Linked DNA regions of Homo sapiens. The protein of the gene in region 3 purifies or fractionates together with the protein of the main gene of each other region. This does not show direct contact. Each region holds a gene or a part of one and is shown on either strand. Other genes may lie near its edges. The genes, in order: UGCG, MAP7D3, SLC20A1, FLVCR1, SLC26A2 and DCAF13.

Region 1 (4,110 bases), on a different chromosome or scaffold from region 3:
AACACACATGCACACACACTTTTCTCCATGTCAAATATATGTACAAAGTTAAAAGACAAAAAACAGACTGGGGAAAAGAATGCTACATGTGACAGAAAACAACCTTTATATCAGAAAGATGAATTCAGCAACAGATTGCAGCACAGGCAAAGGATTATGAGTATGTAATTTACATCTAAATGTAACTAGCATATAAACATATTTTAAAAGTGCTCAATGTAACTTTAAAGGAATGAAAATAGAAACAGAAAACAGTGAAATGCCTGCTACTTAGTGTTTGTAAGGCAAAATGGGGCCATCATACAATGTTACCAGGACTGTGAATATACATAACATTTCCATGGGGCCAATATGTATCAAAGTTTAAAATGTGCACCACTTCTGGCCCAATAATTCCTCTTTCGGAAATATAAATGAGATCATTTCTCAAAGATGTATGCATATAAATTCATCACAGTGTTCTTTGTAATCTAGATAAATTGGAAACAACCTAAACATCCATCAGTAATAATAAATAAATCTTGGTACCTGGTAAACTAAAATATCATGCATCTATTACAAATGATGTAGAGATCATACAGATATTGACATGCAAAAAACGGTCAAGACATTTTACAGGACAGTTCCATGTGAACAGGGGCCTTGTATGTTTGTTCTTCACTCTTCCAGCAACTAGAACAGTGCCTTGCACAAAACGGCTTTTCAATAAACATTTATTAAACAGATGAACTTTAAAGCAGGTTACAGAACAATAATCATAATATAGTCCTTTTCTCTCTTCCCTCTTCCCCTCCCTCCTTCTCTCTCTCTCACACACACACACAGATTGGAAGGATAGTCACAAAAGGTTAACAAGGTAATGTAGTTTTGGTGTGTGCATATTTTAATTTTCTCCATCTCTCTCTATTGCATAAATTCCTTACACAGTAAGCATTTTTTATTTTTATGACGGTAAAAAGTAACAATTTTTTTAAAGAAAAAGAACTCACATATTTTAAATGAACTCCAGAATGTGCTGTGACTAAGCTCACCAACTCCAAAAACTAAAGTCAACAATATCCAAGTGGCATGTTTTCTTTCACTTTCAAAGAAATATCAGTATAACCTGTACCAGCATCATCTTTCTCAGTACCAGGAAATGCCACACTATACTAATAAAATACAGTGTTTCCAAAAGCAAAGGCACACTTTTTCCGCAGTAAAAAGGAAAAAAAAAAAACCAAAAAACTAAAAGTAACTAATTTCTTAAAGTCTCTTCCACTAACATACACTCTATTCTAGTTCATGGTAACGATTACTATATACAATTGCTCTTTTCTCCCCCCAGACTAAAAATCCAAGTGAATCGATATCAGTAATGTGCTCTATATAATTTTTTCATTTCTTTACAGAGGCAGATTTCACCTTAAACAGTGGATATACCAAACTAGCCACATAACCCATGTCTCTATTCACGCCATCACCCAGTTCTATTTTACTTACACGCTTCGTCACAATCTCATAACCTTATTTAGATTTTATCTGCTCCTTCCTTCTAGAATGTAAGACTCATGAGGACAGGAATTCTGTCCTGCTCACCACCATGTCCCCTGGCCAATAACAGTGAATGGTATCTAGTAGGCCTCAAGAAGTATTTGTTAAACAAAAATGAAAAGATGTGGCCGGCACGGGGAGAGTACAAATCTACATAAAACAATAAAACGAGGAACTGAAAAAAGGAAAGAAAACCACGCTGAGATGTACAAGCTGACAGGACTCAAAGCTATCATGCCAGCTCGGAGGTTTGGTGGACATTTTTCAGGGTGGACAGGTGCTTCACACCTATCTAAGCGCATAGAGCCCTTCCAGGAAGAAGAAAATCCACAGAGAGGTGTCCAGATAGCTGTGAGCAGCTCCCAGAAAAGTGGACACAATCACCACCCTAACAGAAACGTGGCCCAGGTCGGGAGAAAAAAACAATACACCATACATCTCGGCCCAGATGAAAAATTACACGAATCCCCAGCACAATCAAACCAAGCCACCACCTTCAGCCTGACACGTAAGAGCAGTCTCCTTTAGCCTGGCTGGGCAGTCGCCTGCAACCCAGCAAACCCTTCCCACGCCCAACACTTTTCCCTCGCAAAGACCACCGCCACCGCCGGTCCGAGGGGCGAGGGAACGGGGGGAACAGCCTGACGATCAGCTTTCTCCACCCCCGCCCGAGCCCAGTCCCCTTCAAAGCGCAAACGTTTCCCATTCTCGCCTGTCTCCGAGGCCCGGACCCCTGCCCCGAGCCCCTCCTGCGGTCCCTCACTCACGTGTAGATGATAGCCATGAAATGCATCAGCCACAGCACCAAGAAGAGGACGAACCCGAAGACGGCCATTCCCTCCAAGGCCAGGTCCAGCAGCGCCATCCCCCGGCCCGCCGGACCGGCCCGGCCCGCTGCGGCCGCCAACACGGACAACGCTCCCGCAGGAGGAGGACAGGGTGGGCGCCCGGTGCGGGGGCGCGGGAGGCGAGAGGAAGGTGGGGAGAGGAAAGGGCGGAGGGGGGTGGGGACGGAAGGGGCGGGCAGGGCCTGCGCGCCCCCGCCCGCGCGCTCTCGCCTGCGCGCTGTCTTCGGCGCGCTCGCGGGCGGCTGCGGGTGCTGCGGTCTCCCGGCTCTGGTCGGGGCGACCGCGGTCCCGCGCTCCGGTTCGCCTCTCCCGAGCCTCGCGGCCGCCCACCAGACCCTGCGCGCGGGCACCTCCGCCGCCTCTCCGTCTCGCCGCCGGGCTCCCGGCCGAGCAGCTCCACCGCCGCAGCTCCGCGCACTAATCAAAACCGGCGGCTCGCGCCCCACTCCTCGGCGCGTCCCGCCCCCGGAACCGCGGCGCCCGCCTCTCCCAGGGGCGGTGCCCCCATCGGTCCACGCCCACCCTGTCGCCCGCGCGCCCGCTGCGGCGCCGGCGAGAGCGCGCCGGGGAGATCGTGTCCTGCTGCCCGCAGGACGCAGGCCGGGCTTCCTCCGGCTCCTCGCTCCCGCTGCCGCCCACCTAGGCGGAAAGCGCTGCAGCCCTGGGCCGGGCTCCCTCGGTGTCGGTGGCAGCTCGGGACCCTGTGCCTGGCTGGAGGCTGCTCTCTCTCCGTCTGGCCCTGCTGTTCCTGGGTGCCCCAGAAAAAGACACGGGTTCCGGGCAGCTGCCGGAGCTTGTCTAGAAATCCAACTTCCAACGCCGCGTCTGCAGCCTCCCCGCCGGGCACTGCTACTGCTCGGAGCAGCCAGGCCCTCCAGGCCACGTTCCTGGGCGCAAGGGATGCCCATTGCCTTCCCTCTTACTGCTTTTAATGCTGTGGGATCTTGGATCAAAAGGGACCGGAGAGTAAAATAATCTCCATGCGCCTCACAGATCTCTAAGCGCCTTAGCGACCGTGTGTATTATAAAAAGAAATTCTCAAATTCAGAATTAAAGAATCAGTTGATATTGAAATTCCCTAAGACTGCCATCCAATACGGTAGCCGCATGTGGCTAAGTGAGGGTTGGAAAGGCAGCTTGCCACTCTGTGGAGTAAACAGTACACCAGATGTGGAAGACCATCTCGTTAGTAAATTTTATATTGATTGCATGTTGAAAAGGTAATATTTTGGACATACTACATTAAATTAGGTAAATTATTAAGTTAATTTCTCTTTTTAAATACTTTGGCTAGCTACTAGAAAATTTTAATTGTACGTGTGGACAGCACAGCTCTAAAATGGGAAGAAATGTCACTTTGGGTAGTAAGGTAACTAAGTATTTGTCCTAATTTTAAGTCATCCCAAGAAGATGCTAGTACTCAATGTTTGTGTTTCTTCAATCTAGATGAGTTTATACTATTTCTGCATTGTTTTATGTTTATTGTTGCAAGTGATTTCCTTTTAAATAATCCATGACCTCCCTTGAGATATTTCAGAATTGAATTCAATTTTGAAAAGAAGTTGTGGCTGGGCGCGGTGGCTCACACCTGTAGTCCCAGCACTTTGGGAGGCGGAGGCAGGTGGAGCATGAGGTCAGGAGTTCAAGACCGGCCTGGCCTAGATGGTGAAACCCCGTCTCTACTAAAAATACAAAGAATTAGCCGGGCGTGGTGGCAGGCGCCTGTAAT
Region 2 (4,282 bases), on a different chromosome or scaffold from region 3:
CAGGTTATCCACCTGCCTGGGCCTCCCAAAGTGCTGGGGCTGGGATTACAGGTGTGAACCACCGTGCCTGGCCCCCCACTTGTATTAATCTACATCATCGCAAACACTTATTGACCACGTTTTAATTTTTGTTAAAATTGTAGGTGCAACGTAATGTCTTTTTTTTCTTTTTCTTTTCTTTTCTTTTTTTTTTTTTTTTTTTTTTTGAGACAGAGTCTCGCTCTGTCACCCAGGCTGGAGTGCAGTGGTGCTATCATGGCTCACTGCAAACTCCACCTCCCGGGTTCAAGCGATTCTCCTGCCTCAGCCTCCCAAGTAGCTGGGATTACAGGCACCCACCACCATGCCCGGCTAATTTTTGTATTTTTAGTAGAGTCGGAGTTTCACCATGTTGGCCAGGCTAGTCTCGAACTCCTGACCTCAAATGATCCACCCACCTCAGCCTCCCAAAATGCTAGGATTACAGGCATGAGCCACCGTGCCTGCCCCATATTACATATTATATATATTATATATTAATATATGTAACTTATGCTATCATTGCTAACATATGTAATATATGCTATTATTAGCTTCTTCCATTTTACAGCTCCCATGTCATTTGGAGACTCAGTGGTCTCGCCAAAGTGCCCATCTCACAAGTGGTCCAGCCCCATTTTGGGATCTCCTGCACCACACTTAATGGCCCCAACCATAAACTGCGTGCCTACAACTATGTCACTACACACACACTCACAACAGTGGTGACTCCACCTCATAAGGGCAAGCCCCCATGAAGTGAGGTCTGCCCCTTAAAGGAGCCTCAGGCCAATGACGGTTTTCCTTGTGAATGGGAAAAACATTCTGCAACCTGGTAGAGTCTCTCCCAAAATCCGGAGAGATTGATGCCAATAAGTCCTCTGCCTCTCTTTGAAGACTCACAAACATCTTAAAGATATTTCACCCAACTTTGAGACCTATGTGTCATGATTTATTGTGCAACAGTTTAGGGAAGCCTACTCATGATGGGGCCCCTAGCACCTCAAAGCAAGCCTGCGACTCCCAACCTCTCCCTAGGCTTCTTCCCCCAACTTGGGTCTTTCTTTGTGTAATGTTTCAAGGACTAGTAAACTCATGATACAAGCGCACCCAGGAGGCACGCCGTAAATGTTCTTTAAATGAATGAATGAATGAGGAAGGAATGTTACTGTGTTGCTAGGTAAAGGTGAAGAAAGGAATGTTGGGGGGGCCAAGCTGGGTGCTGATTGGCTAGTCCTCACAATGCAGTAGGGGCAGAGCACGGAACATAGGAGAGGGTTTCTTTAGACCAGGTAGTCGCTGCCCAGCCGGTCAGGACGTGGGACGCAAGGGGCAATCCTGCCCGGTTCGCAGGTCCGAGGCGGGCGCGGTGGCCCTTCGGGCCCCGCCCCGCCCCGCCCCGCCCCGCCCCGCCCACCGGCAGCCCGGCCACGACCCAAGCGGAGGCCGCGCCGACGCCTGCGCAATGTATGCGGAGAGCCACCACCGCCTCCGGTCCCGACTCCGATGATGGCGGACGGCGCCGCAGCTGGCGCTGGCGGCAGCCCATCCTTGAGAGAGCTGCGGGCACGGATGGGTGAGCGGGCGGGTGGCTCCCGGGGGTGGTTCGGGCCCGCGTGGGAGGCAGGGTTCCCGCAGTCCCCGGGCCGTCGGAGCGGCGCAGCGGGCGCCACAAAACTTTTCCCTGGAGTCGCCTCGTGCTATCTGGTCCTCCCCTCACCCCCGCCGGAGTGCCCTGGGATGGGACAGGGGCGGGGGCGGGGGGTTGAAATTGTCAGCCGACGCCGCGAGCCGCCTGAGTCCCGCCGCCAACGGTCGAACTGCCGCTGCCAACGGTCTGAGCCCCGCGGACGCGGCGCGAGGCAACTCACGGGCTCTGCTTCGACGGGCGGGGCGGGGGCGGCTGGAAGCCGGACCCCGCGGACCGCCCCGTGCCCCATCTGCCCTTGGGGGGCGGTGGCCGCCCGCGCAACCGCCCCAACGAACGCACAGCTGCCTGGGATGTGCGGGCGCCCGCAGGGACTCCGCGCGCCGGCGCCGCCTCCGCCGCCAGGCAGCCTTTCCAGGCACGGAAAGTTTGAGTTATCCCCCAGCCCGGGTCGTGGGCGAGTTTAGGCGCTTTTACTGTCGCAGTCCTTGCCTCTCCCAAAGGCTTACCTCCTGCACCCTCCCGGTCAAGGTCCAGGGAGGAAGCTGGGTGAGGGTGGGGATGCTTAAAAGTTGCTTTAAAAGTTGGGATGAAACTTGGCTCTTTGCATCTCCTGATTTGCCTGCTGTAGCACATGACTTCAACAAGATGTCATCTTCTGTGGGACATCTTGCAGTCTCTAGGCTGAACTGAACGGGAATCAGCACTTCAGAGTGCTTTTTCCTCAACTAGTCCCATCGCCAAAACGTTTTTCCCTCCTCGAAAACCGTTAATCTTATACAATTTGACAGCACATTGCTTGGTCCAGGAGACTGCTCCACTACCTGAGATAGGATTTCTTCCTTTCAGGAGGTTGCTTTTAGCCTGTTAGACTAGTTCCCTCTGCTATGAGCGCGAATAAAACGATTTTATTAATTTTAATTGAATTTCTTAGGGGTTTTTTTGCATTTGCAATTAAAAAGTTAGATTGTTTACGATTGGGAAGCTATATGTTACTTGAGAAGACTTTGAATCAGCTCTCCAAAGACTGTGTCAGAAGCATATACTACATACACTTTCACCATTCATTAGGGAGAAAAGAATCTTCCTTCCGTGTCTATACTTATGGTTCACCTAGAAAGACAGTCTCCAATAAATTGTGTTGCTTATTGGTACCTGTGGCTCTCAGGCACTGGTTTATTTCAGTGATTTAGATTAACCAGCATTACTCCAATATGGTGAAGAAGCTGTGAACCGGATAAACCCCTAAAAGCATTTGTATATCAGATGTTGGAAAGTGTTTTAAAATTATATATGGGACAGATACTGGAATTCACAGCATTTCAAACCAAAAACTTAAGAGCCATGTAAAAGTCTTAACCTAGGACCCTGGTTTAAAACCTTGCTGCCCACTTCATGTTAGGAATTGTAAATATCGCATGTTAGACTTTTTTCACAGAGCACCAACTTGACCAGAACTGCCCTTTAGATCTCAGCGTTTTCCTGAAGGGGTCAAGGAGACAGATGTTTTTGCTAAAATGTTGTTTTCATCTTCTGCTGGCAGTCTGGCAGCAAGAGTTAAAACTGTCTTGAATACATAACATATAAATGCATAGCACAGTCAAAATACATTTATTTTATACATTTATGTATGCATGCAATAGATACATGTATATATATATGTGTTACATATAAAGTGTAAATATATATTTGTTGAGTGATGTTTTCTGTGCATAGCACTGTGCTGAGGTTGTAGCATACCAAATATTTAACAAAACACGTGTTTATATTTTTATGCAGAATTGTTTTAAAATAAAAATTTATTTGAATATTTCAACCAGATGAGCATAAGAAACTTGCCACTGACGTATCACCTTTCCCTTCTTGTTTTTCTAAATTCACCAGTGTTTCTCAGTTTAGAATAACTTTTTCAAAGAATAATTTCTACCAATGCAGAAAAAGCTACGGAGATTGACAGCTAGATTATCATAGAATTTTAGAGTTGGAGAAACCTTAAGATGATCTTGTCAGGCATCCAGAGTCCCAGCTGTAAAATCCTGGGGCACTTCTGCCACTTGAATGGGCACTCTCATGAGGAGCTTAATATTTTTCCAAGTAGCCATTCCATTGTAGACAGCTCTAAATGGTAGAAAATTGTCTCCAGTTTTGTCTTCAAGACATGCTATCTTTGGTTTGAACTTGGAGGTCTTCTGAAAGTCTCAGCCCTATGACTTTGGCTTTTGCTATTTGAGGCAAAATTCTGTGAATCTGCCTGATTTTTATGGTTCTCTGATGGCAGATTTCTTTTCCTGTTATTTTTTCTTAATATTTCAAAATAAAGTTGCTTTGAAATTTACAGTTAAATCAAGTTCTGGCTTCACCACTTACTACCTGTGTGAACTGGGAAAGTTATGTTTAGCTTCAGTTTTTTCAACTATAAAAAAAATTGGGGAAAATAATTACGTCCACTTTATAGGATTGTTGTAAGAATTACATGAAGTAATACAAATGAACTTTGTAAATGGTGAAATGGTATATAATATGTGTTATGGAAGTTTTTAGAAAAGTTCTATAAATACAGATTAAGATTCATAATTCAGTTTTAGTAATACACTACACATTTTCTTATTTAATCTC
Region 3 (3,500 bases):
TTGCAATACCCACATTCTAAGGTACCCAAAAGCCCTAATATAAACTTCAGCACACACCTGAGGATAGGCTATACTCTACGTTTGTAAGAGATGTCAAGAAATAGACTATGTTAGGATGTTGCTTACCTGACTTCATATCTTCAAAGACTAAAAATACAACATGCAGACTATGCGTACGCCAACCATCTTATCTAAACATCTGACAAAGATGCCACAATTAATGCTTTACCGAAGTTCAATGATAATAACTGATTGTGCACAAGGTCATCCACTCACTCAAAAGACTGTGTGCCAAGTGCTATTCTGGGCACCGAAATATAGGAGGGAATAAGACCAAGTTCCTGTTCTAATAGAACTGACACTCACCTTCTAGTATGGAATAATGTAAAGTACTGACAAATGCTGTGAAGAGAAATAAAGAAGGGTAAGAGGAGAGTGATGGAAGGGGGGGCACCATTTGGGTGGGGAGGGTCAAGGAATAAGCATGACATAAATGTAGTAAGCTAGCAAGCTGTGTACATTAACTATGGGTACAGAAGGGGCAAACCACCTGATTATTTGGGCGCTGAATGTTCCAGACAGAGATATCAGCAAATGCAAAGGCCCTAAGGCAAAAACTTGAAATGTTTAAGGAACAGTAAGGCCAGTGACTAAAAATAAGAATTCTACCATACCTAGTATGTATTAATTCTATAGGAGAACACCCAAGTCAAACACCGAAAGAATGGGAGGAGGCTGGGCGCGGTGGCTCACACCTGTAATCCCAGCACTTTGGGAGGCCGAGGCAGGACAATCATGAGGTCAGGAGATCGAGACCATCCTGGGTAATACGGTGAAACCCTGTCTCTACTAAAAATACCAAAAAAATTAGCCCGGATGTGGTGGCAAGCATCTGTAGTCCCAGCTACTCTGGAGGCTGACTCAGGAGAATCACTTGAACCTGGGAGACAGAGGTTGCAGTCAGTGGAGACTGGGCCACCTCACTCCAGCCTGGGCAACAGAGTAAGACTCCATCTCAGAAAAAAAAAAAAATTGGGAGCAAAGATCTGAATACATATATGGGAAGGCTAAAAACTTTATAAAGACCTTAGCCTAAAAGGTTTAATGTTATCTTGATCACAATTCCAGTGGAAAATCTTGGGGAGGAAAAACAGAAAGTAAAACCCTACAGCTTCCAACAATAATCAATACACTGGAAAGTTAGTAGCTTAAGACCAGTGAAACAAGGGAAAGCTCAGACCCATGTGTAAAGTAAAGGTACCATTTCAAATTAGCAGAGATGAGCACTCATTGAAAACCACTCTAAAATTTAACTCTTATCTATAGTTTAATAGAGAATGTTAACAGATAGTGAAATAGCCAAAACAAAAACAATAGCATACAGAAATCAAGAACTGTTAAGCATCCTTGAATAACTAACTCAACGGTGGTCAAACTCTGAGGGCAGTCAACAAGATTAGGAAACTAAGGTGTGTATTTTTATTCTAAAGACTAGTCTTAAGAAAATGCAGGTCAGGTGTGGTGGTGGCTCATGTCTGTCTGTAATCCTAGCACTTTGGGAGGATGAGGCAGGGGATGGCTTGAGCCCAGAAGTTCAAGACCAACTTAAGCAACAGAGCAAGACTCCACCTCTATAAAATATAAAAAGTTAGCCAGATGTGGTGGCACACACCCATAGTCCCAGCTACTCTGGAGGCTGAGGCAGGAGGATCACTTGAGCCTGGGAGGTCAAGGCTGCAGTGAGCTACAATTAAGTCACCGTACTCCAGCCTGGGTGACAGGCGAGACTTCGCTTAAGAAAAAAAAAAAGCCAGGTGCAGTGGCTCAAGCCTGTAATCCCAGCACTTTGGGAGGCCAAGACGGACAGAGCACCTGAGGTCAGGAGTTCAAGACCAGCTTGACCAACGTGGTGAAACCCCGTCTCTACCAAAAATACAAAAATACTAGCCGGGTGTGGTGGCGCCTGTAATCCCAGCTACTCAGGAGGCTGAGGCAGGAGAATTGCTTGAGCCCGAGAGGCGGAGGTTGCAGTAAGCCCAGATCGTGCCACTGCATTCCAGCCTGGGCAACAGAGTGAGACTCCGTCTCAAAAAAAAAAAAAAAAGGCTCCAAAAAACCCAACCCAAGACTCCCACCCCCAAAAATTTCCTGGGTTTTAAAGACATTATGTGGGGACTTCTCAATAGATTTTCAAAGATATTTCGTAATATGATTATCCATAAATCAAATTGTAATTGACTAGTCTGAAGTAGCAGCCTGTGTATTTATTATCCTGTATAGCATAGCCCAATTAAGTATTCCCTGAGGTAAACAAATCTGAGGTATTCTCTACGCAAAGTTGTTGGGGATGGGGTAGGGTATGAATGACACTACTATACCAATAGTTTATTGTGAAATACAGGTTCATGGTTAAAAAAAAATCAAAAGTTCCAGAGAGTCTAGGAAGAAGGTAAAACAAGAAAGGTCTCATCATTGTAGAGATCCACCTAACACACAAGTAAAACTTCACCTGGAAATAATGTGAATGCCTCATCGTCTAGTCATGTGGGACAGGAAAGGTCTTCACAAAACCCCCCATCTTCACCAGAATAGTTCACTTTTACATATTGGATATTCTGGTTTTGTCTAAAGAAAAGGGAAGACATCCTAAATATATTTCTAACTAATGAGAATGCCAAAAGCCCTATTTTCTTTGACTAGAATTTAAAAATACTCAACAGGAGCACTGAAGCATATTCCTTCTGTGCGATGCCAGTCCTAAATAGAAGTACCTCACCTCCATTCTGTCTGTTCCCACCTATCCCCAACATGCTTGGAACAAACATTCAGAGAATAGAAAATGTTTAAAAGCAATTTTTTGAAATTAAAAAAAAAGGTCATGTTAATCTTAATTTTCAAGATAGACATTTAAGAGTTGGAATATATCTTAATGGTCAAATATTCAGATTTTAGCAGTTAAGATACCAAAAGCTTACCAGTCTAAGGATATTTTCTTGAAATTTAACTCCTAAAAGGAAGCAGAAATATTCATACTCAACTGAAAACTCCTGTTACTGAGGGATTGGCCTGCAAGAGTGTGTGTGTGCACGTGCACAGAGTGGGGGAAGATCCTCAAAGTCAATATTGTTTTAAACACTATGCCAATCATTCTTCATCATTTGATCATGCCCATTCCCATACCCATATAGGAAATATACAATTAAGAAATCAGTTACCGTATCTAACTTCAGCCCTCAATAACACCGTGGGGGTATGCATTCCTCAAATGAGAGGTTCTGGGCACCTGAGAATCCCTCTTTGCACCTCAGAGCACCACCATTCCCCTTCCGGGGAATAAGTGTTTTGTGGAGGTGAAACACACAAACCCTCTCCAAAAACAAAATGATCTGCTACTCAATAATCAACACAGGGCCAGCATAAACCTTTACCAAGCAGGAATTCACAACAGGAGATCCTACTAATGCTTCTGACTCTCTGCTAAGTAGCAAGATATACAGTTC
Region 4 (3,500 bases), on a different chromosome or scaffold from region 3:
TCTGAAGTTATTATAGATTTCCTTATTTCAGGAATCTTCAAGGCAAAATATACGATGTGATACATGAAATCATGAAATAGCCAGTAACATACATGATGAAATTATCTTACTAGAAAGTTACACATCAGGAAAAAAAAAAAAAGAGAGTTTAAAAGAAAAAAAAGGCAATGGGTACAAAACTACTCTATCTCAAGTTGGAGTGAAAAAATACAGCGTTAGCATTTATCCATGATAGAAAGGCAGCACAGAAAAGAACTCAAGACAGAATGAACCTGTAACCAGGCTCCTTAATTAGAACATAATTCTAAGACCAAAGTCTGGGTAGAATCTGTACACAGAATAGTTTTTATAGCCATTGACTGCATGTGTTAAAAAGTACTTTGTAACAAGAGTACAATAAATGGGAAAAATCTTAGAGGTCATCTGAAAGCCTGATCCCAATGCTGTCCTTTGTGGGTGAGTAGTGTCATGTTGGTATGTTGTACTCAAACTGAAGTGGCTTGAACAGCTGGTCAGCACAGTGAAAAAGGCAGCCAATTAGGAATATATTGTACATTTAGTTCCACTGGATACTTTAATATATAAACTGCATGAACTATTATATCTTATGGGGACTGAACACCCCATATTATCACTTTAAAAAGTATTCTAAGCTTCCATTTTCTACAAAAAAGAAAAACATCGACTTTTAAAAAGTAAACGTCAAGAAGCTTACTTTCAGATACAATATGAGACTAAAAACCGGATACTAATTAGATAAACAGTAGTGTTAACATGATGTAAACAGAAGAATTTTAAGAAAATTTCCCTTAATTTAACAATTAAGCAAAATAATAATTATGCATTTAGAGTTCATATGGTAATTTTCAAGTAAGTGTGTTTATTCCCCCACCACATACAAACCCAGCCTTGGTGCTCACATCTCTCTCCAAGGATGATCACATTGTCCCCAATTACTACAGGACAGTAACTTTGCCTTTCTCTTCAAATTGCTGATTCTGACTGCTTGGACAACATAACCGTTTTTGGTTCTTGGTCTGTGGGACTGTCAGCTGGTATCTATAAAAACAATCAGAAGATTAAAAATGTATAGCATCTGGCATATCCTATTATAACAGATCAACAGTTGACTCGGGAGAAAAATAGCTAAATAAAAAAATATGGTTTCACATTTATTCTATACATACTTCTCAACAGTATAATCATAAAAATATTACTTACAGCTTTAACATCAACATTTGTAATTCCTATATTTATGTTGTGTCTTCGCAGATCAGACTTGATTAATGCTGAAACAGAGGGGCATCAAGTTACTATAAACTGTTATGTGAAGATTTTTTTAAAAAGCAGCTCAAAGTCTTTCTTGGTATTGTCAAATTTAATGCACTGTAGTGTCATGATATTTAATAGCATCCCAACAGCCTAAAAAATAATAGTACCTCTCTAAAGTTGTTAACAATTAATAAGTCATTCATTATTGAACAAATACGGGAATGCTAGCAACCAATGATACAAAAATGAAAAGTGTAATTCTTTTTCTTAAAGGACTCTCCAATCTAGGGAAACTTTGACATGTAAACAAGTATAACAGTGTGTGATAATTGCAAGGTATGGTGGGGAAGTGGGAGCAAAAAAAGTCTATGTCAGCCAAAGGAAATTAGAGAAGGCTTTCCAGAGAAGACATACTTGATACTGGAAAAAACTGAGTAATAACTTGTCAAGCAGACAAGAGGAGAGGAAGGCATTCTAGGCAGAAGGGAATGCAGGTATATCTCAGAGACATTGTGGGTTCAGCTCCAGATCACCACAAAAGAGTGAATATTGCTGGGCGTGGTGGGTCATGCCTGTAATCCCAGCACTTTGGGAGGCCGAGGTGGGTGGATCACAAGGTCAGAAGATCGAGACCATCCCGGCCAACACGGTGAAACTCCATCTCTACTAAAAACACAAAAAATTAGCCAGGCGTGGCGGCACGCACCTGTAGTCCCAACTACTAGGGAGGCTGAGACAGAAGAATCACTTGAACCTGGGAGGTGGAGGTTGCAGTGAGCAGAGATCGCACCACTGCACATATTTTTTGGTTTTCCAGTGCATAAAAAGTTATGTTTATACTATACTGTAGTCTATTTAAAGTTTGCAATAGCATTATGTCTAAAAAAAAAAATCAATCTACATGCCTTAATTTAAAAACACTTTACTGGCCAGGCTCAGTGGCTCATGCCTGTAATCCTAGCACTTTGAGAGGCCGAGGCGGGTGGATCACTTGAGGTCAGGAGTTCGAGACCAGCCTAGCCAACATAGTGAAACCCCCATCTCTACTAAAATACAAAAATTAGCTGGTTGTGGTGGTGGGCATCTGTAATCCCAGCTACTCAGGAGGCTGAGGCAGGAGAATCACTTGAACCCAGGAGGCAGAGGTTGCAGTGAGCCCAGATGGCGCCATTCCACTCCAGCCTGGGCAACAAGAGCGAAACTCCATCTCAAAAAAACAAAACAAAACAAAAAACACTTTACTGCTAAAAAATGCTAATGATTATCCAAGCCTTCTGCAAGTTATCTTTTTGCTGGTGGAGGGTCTTGCCTTGATGTTGATGGCTGCTGACAGATCAGGGTGGTGGTTGCTAAAAGGTGGGAGCGGCTGTGGCAATTTCTTAAAGTAAGACAGTGACGAAGTTTGCCGTATTAATCAACTCTTCCTTTCATGAAAGATCTCTCTGTGTGCAATACTTGTTTGATAACATTTTACCCACAAAACTTCCTCAAAACAGGAGTTGATCCTCTCAAACCCTGCCACTGCTTCATCAGCTAAGTTTATATAATATTCTAAATCCTTTGTTGTCATTTCAACATTTACAGCATCTTTACTAGTAGATTCCAACTCAAGAAAACACTTTCTTTGCTTATCCATAAGAAGCAACCCAGCCAGGCGCAGTGGCTGACACCTGTAATCCCAGCACTTTGGGAGGCCGAGGCAGGCAGATCACAAGGTCAGGAAATCAAAACCATCCTGGCTAACATGGTGAAACCCCGTCTCTACAAAAAATACAAAAAATTAGCCGGGCGTGGTGGCGGGCACCTGTAGTCCCAGCTACTCAGGAGGCTGAGGCAGGAGAATGGCCTGAACCCGGGAGGCAGAGCTTGCTGTGAGCCGAGATCACGCCACTGCACTCCAGCCTGGGCAACACAGCAACATTCCGGCACCCCCCCCCAAAAAAAAAGAAGCAACCCTTCATTTCTTCAGGTTTTACCATAAGATGCAGCAATTCAGTTACCTCTTCATATTCCACTTCTAATTCCAGTTCTCTTGTTATTCCCACCACATCTGCAGCTATTTCCTCCACTGAAGTCTTGAACACCTCAAAATCATCCATGAGAATGGGAATTAACTTCCTCCAAACTCCTGTTAATGTTGATAGTTTGACCTCCTCCCATGAATCAAGAATGTTCTTAATGGCATCTAGGATGGTGCATCCTTTCCAGAAAGTTCTCAATTTACTTTG
Region 5 (3,500 bases), on a different chromosome or scaffold from region 3:
TTTGTATCAATATAGTGTTTAAAATAATGCTTAAAGAACTAAAGTCCTATCCTTTGGTCAAGAGAGCAAATGAAAACAGTTTTTTGTTTGTTTGTTTGAGACGGAGTCTCGCTCTGTCACCCAGGCTGGAGTCCAGTGGCACAATCTCTGCTTACTGCAACCTCCGCCTCCCGGGTTCAAGTAATTCTCCTGCCTCAGCCTCCTGAGTAGCTGGGACTACAGGCGCGTGCCACCATGCCCCGCTAATTTTTTGTATTTTTAGTAGAGACGGGGTTTCACAGTGTTAGCCAGGATGGTCTCGAACTCCTGACTTCAGGTGATCCACCCGCCTCGGCCTCCCAACGTGCTGGGATTACAGGCATGAGCCACTGCACCTGGCCGAAAACAGTTTTTTTATCGGCAAATTAGGCTTTGGTTCCAGGTTTCATTCCTCTGAATATCAGCAACCAAAACATTTTAACAATATGCAAGTATAGGCAACCTCAACCCAAGTAGAGAGGATGAAATGTAAATTCTAGTGACATCTTAAATGTTTCTACAGATGGCTACCAAAAGCAGAATCTCTTGTTTGGATGGATGGGACAAGTACAAACCAGAACATAATTCAAGGATTCGCTAACTGCATGCATAACGTTCCAGAACTGTTTACATCCACATATGGACAGAAATCGCTGGTAAAGGTCAAATCCTGTTATCCCTCCTTCTGAGGGATTTTCCAGAATCTTTGGCTGGAATTATATTTTTTGCTGTGTTGGTGTTGGCTAATTATAACATCTTAAGCATGTACTCATTACTCTGTCACAGGTTATTAGACACCTATAATAGTCTCAACTTAAGCCTGCCTTGGGAGAAGGGCAAGAGAGATTAAAAATAAATAACTTGGCCAAGTGCAGTGGCTCACGCCTGTAATCCCAACACTCTGGGAGGCTGAGGCTGAAGGATTGCTTGAGCCTGGAGTTTGAGACCAGCCTGGGCAACACAGTGAGACCCTCTCTCTAGAAAAAAATTTAAAAAATTAGCAGGGTGTGGTGATGCATACCTATGGTCTAGCTACTCAGGAGGCCAAAATGGAAGGATAACTTGAGCCCAGGAGTGGGAAGCTTCAGTAAGCTATCATCAAACTGCACTCTGGCCTGGATGACTGTCTCTTAAAAAAGAAAAAAGGAAAAAAATAAAGACTGACCAAGATACTGTGATTTTACTGCTATTATTCATAAGGCTGGATAGAAAGGGCAAATACTGGCTAAAAAACAAACAAGAACAAATACAAGCAGCAATTAACATTTCTGGAATTCCAGACCCAAGTTCTAAAAGGATGTCAAAATTCAGGAAGCCTACACTTGATTATAATCACCTATAAGACAGAAATCACCTATAAGACAGAAATCTAGACTTTCTACTGAGCAACTGCTTTGTTGTGATAATGGAAAGGTATTTTCCATGTCACCAAATGGGAGAGCTCTACCAACAGAAAAGCAACACTGGCAGCTTATGGAGCTAACAATAAAGCTAAGTTACATATATCTATATAGGATAATATAGATATAATAAAATATATATGCATTTTAAATATACATATTAAACATGTACATACTTAATATATGTCTAAAAGCATCCCACTCCAACAGATGCCCTACACATAGGGTTTGCTTCTCATAAATATTTAAAATTGTTTAGAAACTGGGAACAGATTGAAAAATGATTTTGTACTTTTGCAGTTTACTTTTTTTTTTTTTAAGATGGCTGTTTCATAAATTAGTTCCCTATTCCTAACTTTGGAGAACCTGGTTTTTTCTTACCTTTCAAGGTCCAAATATAAAACTATAAACTTTCAGTGTTGGACATTCTTGCTTTTTGAAAGCAAATTCCTCCTCAATTCATGACCTGTGGGCCAGCTATCATGAATAATACACCCATAGCACTTGGGTTTTATGAATGTGACTTCTAAATCCTCCTGCATAATAGCTTTAGGTGACTTGAAGAGTTAAAAGCTGTCATTGTCATCAATATTTACTGTACATCAAACTCATTTAAAATGCTGTTAGAAATTGCTGACTGGCAAGACTGTCACTGACAAAAACACCAGTTTAGGACAGATTCCATGGGAAACAAACTAGAATAACTGAAAGCTAAAATAGAGCTTAATGGTAGAGAAAGTCTCAGAAACAAGGACAGAGATCACAGAAAAGACAAGGAAGGACTCCTATTGTTTTTTCTGATTTTGAAGAGCTCTTTGTGCTTACCTATTTATCCTAAACAAAAAGGCATGAGTAAAAATTTCCAATGTATTACAAAGGGTATTCTGTCTAATGTCAGGCTGGCTCTCAGGATGTTATAAACCTGCCCAGGTATTAGACTTCTGATGAGACTGTGCCTTAAGGACAGGAATGGCACTTTCCTACTAAAAACTACTGCCATCTGGGGAGCAAAGACTGGGGATAGAAAACTACAAGAACAAACCTGTCTAGTTATGACTTTGTGATCCAGAAGCCTCTTGACCTATGGTACTAGAGCAGGTGCAACATTCTTTCCCTCTCTCCACTGAGCCACATAAAGAAGTCTACAGCACTTCCAATGTAAATCCCAACTTCACCGCTTCATCTCTTGGAGAATGCACAGTCCAAATGTATAACCCCTAAAACAGGAGAGTAATTAAGTTTTGGAGCTACTTTACAGTACAGTTCAATACATACTTATTGCATTCCAAGAATACTTCATATCTGCAAGAAAGCCTGAAACCGTATTTTCTTCTTTTTGACTCTGTCCAGCTACAAGCTCTGCTGCAGTGTGTATATACAAATGCCATTAGCTTCAAAGGAGGAATAATATCTAGCCACTTGGTTAAAATTTCAAGTGTGCAAAATTTCCCACTGTGGAACTGGGAAATGTTGGACACTTGAAATTTTAACCTATTGGCTAGACATTCTTCTATCTACCTTCTCAATTAATCACTACTAAGACTCAGACCATTGGGAACACATACTCCTTTCTGATTTTTAGATACTTCTGCAAAAGCCATCGCTTCATACACACTATAGAAGAGAAGGTTTTCTTCTTCCTTTTTGCAATATTCTCCGTTGGTTAGGGAATCCCTCACAGTGGGATTGCACTGAGCCAGCAGAACCTGGATTCCAATGGCTTCATAATCTCTGCGAACTTCTTTCAGTGTGTGGATCCCTGCTGTATCTAAAAATTGAATTGCACTGCAGTCAATCACTATAGTATGCAGCTCCAAGGGATCATGGGAAAGTTGCACTGACATTTCATCCTGGATTCCACCAAGAGTCACTACTTTTTCTTTGATCTTTCTCTTTGCTGCCTTCTTCCAAGCCACCTTTATTAAGATTGGGTTGACAGTTTGTTTGTATAAAGCAGATTTAAAGCATTCTTTGTTTATGTAGTAGAGAGGGGCTACAAAGCGGAAAATCTTGATGCCTGGCTTAATCTGAAGGTTCTTGTAAGCAGACACAGATTCAAAGACCTCAGACTCTTCCACCAAG
Region 6 (3,500 bases), on a different chromosome or scaffold from region 3:
CGTGCCAACAGTTTTGCTCACTGTTGCTTTTTTACTATTTGTGCAGCTGTCAGCACAGTGAAAAGACAAACTATGTCTTTACTAACATTATGAAAATAGTTTTGACTGTGTGGACCCTGAAAAGTTCTCAGGGTCCTCCAGAGGCCCAAAGTTCACAGTTTGAAAACCACTGACTTAGTAGTTTCTGCAGTTCATGCAGAAAAGGACTTTATCTATTTCAATATTATAACAATGCCTTCTCTCCAGTATTTTCATGTTTTTCATTTTATTTTTTACATTTAAAATTACCTGGAATTTTATTTTCACATAAGGCATCAAATTGGCTCAATTTTTTTGAATGACTAACCAGATATTATAATACCATTTTTTATAATCCATTTTTTCTCCAAGTTGAAATGCCATGTTTATCACAATATGCATGACCTAACTTTGCCCCTGTTCTTGTTTTTCTTTTGCTCTACTCATTATATTTTTAGTTTTATGTACTTTATGTATTTGTCACAAATCTTTACTAAAACAAGGTGGGATATAAATGGATCAATAAGTGTAATACTGGAATGATATGGTATGTTACCTGTTTTAAACAAGATACTTATTTGATATGTGTTGGCAAGTTTTAATTTATAACTGTTGTTCCTTACCATCATCATAATAAAACAAATATTTCTAGGTTGGTGATGACAAAACTGTGAAGCAGTGGAAAATGGATGGGCCAGGCTATGGAGACGAGGAAGAGCCATTACATACAATATTAGGAAAGGTACAAAAGTAAATTGACTAATAGCTTGCCTATTAACATTCTTTTATTTAAAATTATTTTATAGTTATAATTTCCTAAGATGGGGAAGAAGATGCAGATAAGAAACGAAAGACTTTAGGCTGTAATTGTTGACCCATTTACGCAATATTTAATGCAGCTAAAGTCCTTTGATGCTAAAGAATTTTAACAGTTTTTTTTTTTTTTGGTATTCATTGTAGTAGAGTTTGATTTCTGTTTTTAGCCAGAGGATACAATGAAACATTTCCCATGGGAAGACCACGGAGAAAAAGATAGAAGTTCAGAAAATGCTTCAGCTTGTCTAGTTGATGTCATCATAGATCTTACACAAAACTCAGAATTTCTTAGTTGAAAGACTCCTTTAAGAAATGAAGAAATTTAATAGTATTATGCATCATGTATAAATCTTATTAATGTTTCTACCAAATTATTCTGCAAATCAGGTGATGGGTGGTTTAGTTTTAGCATAAGAATAATTTAGAACATTTGGTCTATCCATGTTTTATAATGTTTACATTTTTATATTAAGCAAACAATTCCAAAATTAGATTTAATCTTTAAATTAAATCTACCTTTTAAAAATCACTTTGTCGTTTCAATATTATGGTTAGTATATAATATTTAGGTTCTGCTTTAGGTTTCAAGAAGACTAAATGTTCTTAAAGGGATAGGGGAATGGGGTATGAGTATGAGGTAGAGATAATTTGTAGTTGGAAACACGTTAGTAATTTCTAAAACAAAATTGGTTTCATTCTTAAAATGTCTTGTCTCATTATGGTATTGTTTCCCCCTTTAAGTAAGGACTTCAAAGAAGTTTCTTTGTGAACAGGGCTTTTCTCTAAAAAGATAGTATAGATAAATATATTTAAAATATTATTCTGCAGATTTGAATTAGTAATGAAAAAAATCCTCTTAACCTTTTTGCTTTTAAAGACAGTGTATACTGGGATTGATCATCACTGGAAAGAAGCTGTTTTTGCCACATGTGGACAGCAAGTAGACATTTGGGATGAACAAAGAACTAATCCTATATGTTCAATGACCTGGGGATTTGACAGTATAAGTAGTGTTAAATTTAACCCAATTGAGGTAATGTTTTTTTTTAAGTATGTTTTACTTATTATGGCTTAATAATTTCAGTTCTGTTTAGAAAACTTTTGAATGTATGATAGAAACTTCTGAATTTTAATGGTGTTTTGGCATTTTGTCAGTTTTCCCGATTGTAAATGAGTTCTGATACCTTTGCTCAAATCCCAACATGTTTCCCAGCAGTTTAGTCCCAGATACTAGAGTTAAGCATTGTTAGAGGAGTGGTGTGTGCATTTGCCCATTGGGGTAAAATCCAAGTAAATATAGTCTTGTTTTAACTTTAGTTTTACTCATGCCTTCAACTTCATGTTCCATAGATTATGTCATTGTACATTTAGGAAAATGTTAATTTTTCTACCTGCCTTGGAGGTCAGAAGAAGGAGCATTGGACATCATTTTGTCTATTTGTAATTGGTAAGGTACCAATGCTTCATAAAAACATTTGTGATTATTGTTGAACTGCATGGTAATTAGTTATAGTTATATTTTTCTTTGCTCAGAAGTCTGAATTGTGATTCCCAGTTCCTCCAGGCCTAAGGGAAGAGTTGGAGATTGGCCACTACATGTCGTCTGTTTAGGTCTGAATTTAGGAATGGAGGCTGTCCTGAAGGCTAAGCTAGCCCTTGGACTCCAGATCTTTCTCTGAACTTTTTCTTAATGCATAACAATAGATGAACTGATTGTCCAGAAGACTCAGTAGGGATATGTTTTTCCTGTTGAAAGAAAAGGCAATCATAGCATATATAAGCCAATTTTAGCAGTTATTGCGAGGCTACCATTTTAGGTAGTATGAGAGAAAAATCCTAATATGCAAGTGTTATGCTCTTAAAGACCCAACCTGATAAAAGATAGGAAGTAAGGTTGAGTCAAAATAGTAAGGTATAAAAATAGTTTGTATGATATACTGGAAAATGAGATGCTGCAGTGCGATGTGAGCTTGGCCTTGAGGAATTACTGAGAAGTCAGAGGACACTCTTCCTGCAACTACCACATGCTCACACACACACTTTCTAGAGACGCTACAGGTCTAGAATAGGTTGGCAAACTAGTCTGTGAGCCACATGTGGCCCACTGCCTGTTTTTGTAAATAGAGCTCTGCTAGAAGACAGCCATGTTCTCTTGCGTACATATTGTCTGTAGCTGCTTTCGTGCTATGATGGCAGAGTTAAGTAATTGCCACAGAGACCATATGGCCCACAAAACCTAAAATACTTACTCTCTGGCCCTTTACAGAAAAAGTTTTCTGATTCCTGGTCTGGAGTGTCTGTCTCTATTATATCTTTCTCACTCCATCCTCCATCTTCCTTCCTTATGTTTCCCTTGGTTGTAGAAGAGAGAAGTGGCATGGAAAGGCAGCTACCTTTGCAGAGCAGGACCAAGTGTAAAAGTTGATAACATATGTGAACATTTTTTAAAAGTGCTATCCAAATTCAAGATGGTGACGGTATTACGTACTAAAAAAAAAACACAAAAAAACCTAAACAGACACTGGTTCTTACTATTTAGAGGAACAAAAAAATCTTTTGCTTCTCTGCTTTGGTGAACATCTGTGTCAGAAGAGCCGATCACCAATTCTAAAATCGTAATTATTAGGGATGACCTAGTGACCATGTTTTTCAAACTTGCCTGTATA

Evidence for each region.
Region 1: the proteins of SLC20A1 (region 3) and UGCG purify together in Homo sapiens (affinity purification with mass spectrometry; 2 studies listed by BioGRID and IntAct, with this or other methods). This does not show direct contact.
Region 2: the proteins of SLC20A1 (region 3) and MAP7D3 purify together in Homo sapiens (affinity purification with mass spectrometry; one large-scale study listed by BioGRID and IntAct). This does not show direct contact.
Region 4: the proteins of SLC20A1 (region 3) and FLVCR1 purify together in Homo sapiens (affinity purification with mass spectrometry; 2 studies listed by BioGRID and IntAct, with this or other methods). This does not show direct contact.
Region 5: the proteins of SLC20A1 (region 3) and SLC26A2 purify together in Homo sapiens (affinity purification with mass spectrometry; one large-scale study listed by BioGRID and IntAct). This does not show direct contact.
Region 6: the proteins of SLC20A1 (region 3) and DCAF13 purify together in Homo sapiens (affinity purification with mass spectrometry; one large-scale study listed by BioGRID and IntAct). This does not show direct contact.

Annotation. Positions count from the first base shown.
Region 1 is NC_000009.12:111,895,504-111,899,613, reverse strand, and holds the start of UGCG (ceramide glucosyltransferase), read right to left. Parts: upstream 2,801-4,110; 5' UTR 2,399-2,800; coding exon 2,301-2,398; intron 1-2,300. UniProt on the Homo sapiens protein: Participates in the initial step of the glucosylceramide-based glycosphingolipid/GSL synthetic pathway at the cytosolic surface of the Golgi.
Region 2 is NC_000023.11:136,248,601-136,252,882, reverse strand, and holds the start of MAP7D3 (MAP7 domain-containing protein 3), read left to right. Parts: upstream 1-1,482; 5' UTR 1,483-1,524; coding exon 1,525-1,594; intron 1,595-4,282. UniProt on the Homo sapiens protein: Promotes the assembly and stability of microtubules.
Region 3 is NC_000002.12:112,648,939-112,652,438, reverse strand, and holds part of SLC20A1 (sodium-dependent phosphate transporter 1), read right to left. Parts: intron 1-3,500. UniProt on the Homo sapiens protein: Sodium-phosphate symporter which preferentially transports the monovalent form of phosphate with a stoichiometry of two sodium ions per phosphate ion. May play a role in extracellular matrix and cartilage calcification as well as in vascular calcification.
Region 4 is NC_000001.11:212,892,775-212,896,274, reverse strand, and holds part of FLVCR1 (choline/ethanolamine transporter FLVCR1), read right to left. Parts: intron 1,290-3,500; coding exon 1,222-1,289; intron 1,060-1,221; coding exon 985-1,059; 3' UTR 1-984.
Region 5 is NC_000005.10:149,981,258-149,984,757, reverse strand, and holds part of SLC26A2 (sulfate transporter), read right to left. Parts: coding exon 2,945-3,500; 3' UTR 1-2,944. UniProt on the Homo sapiens protein: Sulfate transporter which mediates sulfate uptake into chondrocytes in order to maintain adequate sulfation of proteoglycans which is needed for cartilage development.
Region 6 is NC_000008.11:103,425,386-103,428,885, forward strand, and holds part of DCAF13 (DDB1- and CUL4-associated factor 13), read left to right. Parts: intron 1-670; coding exon 671-760; intron 761-1,711; coding exon 1,712-1,867; intron 1,868-3,500. UniProt on the Homo sapiens protein: Part of the small subunit (SSU) processome, first precursor of the small eukaryotic ribosomal subunit.